Regions from separate parts of the Homo sapiens genome. Here region 2 is linked to region 1. Evidence: fine-mapped QTL for protein levels in blood plasma. Region 1 holds a variant in brackets. A gene starts in the other region. All regions are shown on their reverse strands.

What was found. PIP is the posterior inclusion probability: the model's chance that the variant is causal. The UK Biobank Pharma Proteomics Project read protein levels with antibody pairs (Olink). The fine-mapping took linkage between variants from a reference panel, not from the people measured, so its PIPs are less certain.
Region 2: PPY starts here. The variant in region 1 is fine-mapped to the plasma level of the PPY protein (UK Biobank, PIP above 0.99).

Annotation. Positions count from the first base shown.
Region 1 is chr3:169,475,155-169,478,065 of GRCh38, reverse strand. The region is part of intron 1 of MECOM (MDS1 and EVI1 complex locus); the gene reads left to right. MECOM-AS1 (MECOM antisense RNA 1) reads right to left here. Exons shown (of 5, transcript NR_134932.1): 5 at 1,014-1,180. Among named protein-coding and RNA genes, the nearest start is that of MECOM-AS1, 29 kb to the right of the region's middle. The variant T/A (reference allele first, on the strand shown) is at 1,610.
Region 2 is chr17:43,941,067-43,943,977 of GRCh38, reverse strand. It overlaps PPY (pancreatic polypeptide), which reads left to right and starts at 1,502. Exons shown (of 4, transcript NM_002722.5): 1 at 1,502-1,557; 2 at 2,324-2,514; 3 at 2,764-2,835. The coding sequence starts at 2,324.

The DNA of each region.
Region 1 (2,911 bases):
CATTCTCAGTTTGCTAGGACATTTGTTCACCGTTGACCTCCCTGACAAATAATACACCTTAATTATGTTGGCAAGAGGGGATATGTCATTCCTGGGCCACTTTAATTGTCTATCCGACAGGCATCCTGCTGTGGCATGTAGCTTCTGTGGTATTTTGACTGCAGTGGTAGGACTATCCTGTGCTTGCGCTTTGTCTAGAGATAGTCTCAACTTTTACAGGTTCTGAAGATAATATGTCTTATTGAAGCCGTGTATCACTTTTGTTTTGCAGTTGCTAAAACAAGCTCTCACATTAATTTGGTGGAAACAGTACAGATTGGCTATCTACAAGGTTTGCCTTGGAAAGCAAAAAAAAAGTCTGCATAAGGATTTAGAATGAAGTAAATACTGAAATAACTACAAAGGTTAAGAAGAAAGGTGTTTGGGCATATCAGGAAGCTCCACAAAGGAAAAACAGCTGACTGCAGCTCCAGGAGCAGGACGCAGAGCCTCTAGTTTAAGTCAGCTAATCCTTTGCAAGAAACAGAGAAGTGCTCTTGGCCAAAGATTAATCTTACAATTCCATTCTCACATAAAAATCCTGCAGCCTATAACAATCTTGACTTCGGGACTCAGAAAAAAATTCTCTTTTATACCTTGCAAGGATTTGGATCATTGATGGTCTTCATTTTGGCACTTGTTTGTGTTTACTCCAAGATTTTTGTGCAATTCTTTGCCCATGGGAGAATGACGGGGCGCAAAGATAAAAGCTGATGAGGGTCTCAGCAGCACTTCGAAGTTGTGGGAGCCAGTTACCATTTGGAGTTCTCCTTTGACAGGGGTAGATGCCTTAATTTGAAATGCCATTTAACTAGGAATCTACCTAGACCTTTGCAGTGTGAAGACTTCCTATTGCAAATGAAATTGTGTGTGTGTGTATATATATATATATATATATATATATATATATATATATATATACACACACACACACACACACACACATCTTACTTATCCAGACCTCTAGGCACATATTATGTCGCATGTAGGAGTTTATTAACATGAGTATTTCTAAAAAGAAAGCTATTTTATCCATAGCAGCAGGTAAAATTTTAGTTTGTTGGCACAGTCCGTTGTCTCATCTCTCTTTTCTTCTGCCTAACCTGTCTTTGCCGGTTTTCTCATCAGTGGAACATGTTGCCTGTGAGGTTAGGGGAGAAAAAGAAAAAAAAAAAGAACAGCATCAACAAAAAATAGCATCTTCTTCCACTCAACCTGCAAGGCTTCACAAGGGTAATCTCAAAGGTCACCTGGCTCCTGTTTTGGCCAAGAATATGTGGATTAGGGTCACAGGAGGGCGAGATTTTAATTTCACAAAAATATGTAAAGGGAAGGGGGAGAAGGGGGAGAAAAAAAAGATTACTTGCAGAGAGCATGAGTACCAAGGGAGGCATGCTTAGGTGACTAACGACACCTCTATCAGAAGAACAAACTCGATCTGCATCAAGCATTGAGACAGATGAGGCCAATTTCACACAGTAAATTTCTTGGCCATGATTGATGTGCCCCTGCCGCTGAATGTGAGCAAGCTCTCTCCGCACCTGTCAAGCACCGGGCAGACAGGGATCTA[T/A]CAAAGCGTTATTGATGACTTTACACTGTACTCTGCAAATAAAATGTAATGGGCTAACTGGAACATAGATCTGAGTGATGTTACTTATATATTAAATATGTCACATCTGTAGAACAAATGGTGGTTAGATAAGAGTTATCATCTTCAGGGCTCAATAAATATTTTATCAAGCATAATGGAAATTGTCAAATCAATCTAATTGTGTAATACATTATGAAGACATCAAAATTAAACAAAGCACATATGCTATCATTTCATTTTATTAGTGGGCCACTGTTGTGCCCAGGAGGTCTTGTGGTGGTTGAAGGCTGGCAGAGTTAATACTATATATATGTTTCCCTTTCCTCTCCCTCTGCTGCTTATGGAACTGGCTAGATATTTCATCAAAGTATTAATTTCTCAAATGCAGACAACTTCAAGGCATAATTAGATTAGGGAGAACAAAGCTGCGAAAAGTGGCATCAAGCCACAAATTCACTTTAGCCATATTTAGAGCAAATATCTCTGTGCTTCCATTTCATTTTATTTATCTTTATCTGATTTTATACTGTTGCAATAAAAAAAAACCCAACATGAGCAAGAATTATCTTTGAGCCAGAGACATCCATGCTAGCTCCTAACTAGCAGCAACTGATGTTTCAAAATACCTTTGTCGTTTTTGTTATTGGTGGTTAAAAACCACTTGAGGTTTCCCTCCTCCTCCCCCTTTTTTTTTAATTGGCAAGCTAGGTACTTTACAAAGACTATGGAAAGGATTACAAAATCTGGCAAGACTGGCTTTGGCTTGGTGAATTTTAAATATGCATTTAAGGAATGATTGCGTCTTTCTTTTCTACCCGATTTAAGACAGCTATTAGATTCGGAAAAAAAAAAAACTTCGACTTTTTAGTCACTATTTTTAATGTGCTAAGGAAACATTACCATTTCATCCATGTGTCCATTAAAAGAAAGGGCAGCCCGTATTCCTGGCCTTAGAAATTCTCAGTTTGGCTTGTCACTGTGATCAAATTCAGTCCCAGGGTGCATAAGAGGAAGGTCATGAAACATCCTGTGCCCAGTTTTTCCAGAAGCAAAATGGGAATAACTTAAAAAAACACTTCAACCGTCTTGATAAAGTTGGGCCAGGGGACAAAGTTTGCTGCTTGTCAGGGTTAGAACTAAAATGGTTATATTAGGATAATCATGAAAGATACTTATTTCAATATTAAATGACTTTCAGAATGAAGTGCAACCATTGGCAACAAATAAGAGCACAAATTGTCTTTTTTCCCCTATAGAATTATATGCTATGTTATCATTAAA
Region 2 (2,911 bases), not on the chromosome of region 1:
TGTTAACCAAAATCAAAATTGAGAGGGTCAAGGCAGAACACTGATGTTTGCTGAGCCTTCCTTTATTCTCCCTATCTTCAGATGGGTGTGATGAGCCTATTTTACTGAGAGGAAAAGTGAAGCTCAGAGAGGCTAAAGAAATTACTTTCCCAGGCTCACAGAGCCAGCCAATGCAGAGCCAGGATTTGGACCCAGGTCTGTCTGACTCTAAGCCCACCCTGCCAGATCCCTGGAGTTTCACCTCCAGTCCCCTCTTCCCCAACAGTCCCCCCCATCTCCCAACTTCTTGGTATACTGATCTGGGACAGCAGAACGTCAGCAGTCATAAGTCCTTAGCTCCGTACTTGGTGTCACCGTGTCATTCAGACACAGCCAGTTACCACTCCTTGGCCTAAGCAGGGGAGGGAGACTGGGGGTTGGGAAGAGACGCTGGGCAGGGGAGACTCAGGGGCTTCTGGTGGGGATGGATTAGTGGGGTTGAGAATCTAAGCCAGAATTCGGAACCTCGGTAGCTATGAGATCTTGAGCAAGCGTCTTTACCTCTGTGAGCCTCAGGTTTCTCAGCCAAAAAGTGGGAAATTATAACAATACTTTGACGGCCCCACTTAGGAAAAAAAACAGTCCAGGTTTGGAGTTAAATTTTGGGGTCTGACTGGCTGTGGGGTTTGGGGCCAGTGATTTGACATCTCTGAGCAGATTTCAGATCCTGAATCTGTAAAATGGGTTGTTGTGGGGATTTAGTGAGGTGACTGAGCTGGCAGCACTTTGGAAAATGTGAGGCTTTACAAATGAAGCTGGTTTTTAGCACTTCCCTGGAATGGGGGCTCTGAGATGGGGAGGGAAATGGATACTGGAAACCGGCACCCCCCTCAACATTTCCCCTGAACCCAGGCACATGAGTTCTCATTCTGCATCCTATGCACCCACCAAATGGGTTTCTCCAAGCCTGGCACCCCACTCCTTTCCACCTTGCCTGAGGACCTGAGGCCCCTTCCCTCTTCCCACCTTGTTCTAGTTGCAAGCTGCAGAGGATGGCCTGAGTTTCCATTCTTCAGCCTGGAGGCTCTGGCTGTAGCCTCAGTCTTCCAGCTGCAGCCTCAATCTTCTGCCCCAAGAGAATCCGTTGGATGATTTGGGTTGATCTTTGGGAGGCAGGAGAGCTAGTTCCAAGGCCTGTGACCAAAACCTTTCAGTCACTCTCGAGTCCCAGAACCCCATCTTTCTTGAACCAAGCCTGCTCTGGTGCCCAAAGGGAAGGGGTGTCAGTGATGGGGGCCCACAGGAGACTTTTACTGTGGTCCAGTTTTATCTGTTATGCTGCTGGTCTGGCACCCACAGAACTGCCCTGTCCCCCTCCCGTCTCTGGCCTCAGTACTGGCGTTGCCAGTATGAGGAGACAGTGAGAGGAGGGGTGAGGGCTTCGGAGTGAGAGAGGCTGACAGGAGGCGGGGACTCTGGGGGGCTGAGGACTATAAAGCGGCCCAGCCGAGGGCAGGGGCCCATCCGGCCTGAGGCAGGTGCTCGCTTGGTCTAGTGCCCATTTACTCTGGACTCCGGGTAAGTGGGCTCAGCCTGCCTGGGGCTCTGGGGGCCTCCCCCAGGCTGGGGCCTGGGATGGAGAGGAGGTGGTGCTTTGCAGGGCCAGGGGCCTTGGGAGGCCTAAGGTCCTGCTTGGGTCTTGCTTTCTGCATCTGGACAGACCTGTCACGCTAGAAGAGCCGTCTGCTGACTGCACGTGTGTGTGCACACTCGTGTGCATGGCTGTGAACTGGAATGTGTGACTGTGACCTTGTGAGTGACTGGGGTCCCTGTGTGAGTGCCTTTGCTGGTCTGTGCAGGACGACATGGACAGTAGCGTCTTCTCCAGGACCGATATCTGTGTCTCTATCGCAGGGTGGAGGGCCAGACCCACAAGGCCATGGATTTCTGTCCTTGGCTTCCCGAGTTCATTCTGTGTCCCCCACCCTGTGGGTGACCTGGCATGCCCTTATTCCCACTAGCTGCTGCCTCCTGGGAGCCATGAGGCCCTGGATGTCATGAGTCCCGTGTCTCCAGGACTCACATCCCCATTTTCTCTGCTATACTTTTCTAACTTGCGAGGCCCTGGCTTGCTGGGCTGCTCACAGGACAGGCTGTCCGTGCCTTCAGAGCAGTGTCTAGGAGGTGGAGTGGCCAGCTTGGAGTGGCCCTTTGCTCTGCCCCCTTGTCCCCAGGCTTGGAGAAATGGATGATGGGCTAAGGGGCTGGATAGTTGGGCCCTGCTTCCTGGGCACGGGAAAATCTGCAGCCCGGGCTCTCCACCTCCCCTCTGCTTGCTCCTCAGATGGCTGCCGCACGCCTCTGCCTCTCCCTGCTGCTCCTGTCCACCTGCGTGGCTCTGTTACTACAGCCACTGCTGGGTGCCCAGGGAGCCCCACTGGAGCCAGTGTACCCAGGGGACAATGCCACACCAGAGCAGATGGCCCAGTATGCAGCTGATCTCCGTAGATACATCAACATGCTGACCAGGCCTAGGTGTGTGCCACAGTTGGGGAGAGAGATCCCAGCCCCTGGGACCCTGGGCCCACTCCACATTCCTGGCCACACCCTATCCCCAGCCCCAGCCCCAGCCCCTTCCAGGCCTGCTCTTGGGAAAACAGGGCATCTGTGCTCAACAGGCCTAGACCAATGTGCCCTGGGCAAGATGGTGCCTACAGGCAGATATGAAACAGGTGGGCTGGCACCTGGGCACAGTGCTTGCCCCTGCTGCCTCTTCCCTCCCAGGTATGGGAAAAGACACAAAGAGGACACGCTGGCCTTCTCGGAGTGGGGGTCCCCGCATGCTGCTGTCCCCAGGTGAGTTTGACTCCCTGCCCTGTCTGTCCAGCTCCCTGGAGCTGAAATGGGGGTGGTGGGACTGAATCAGGGCTTG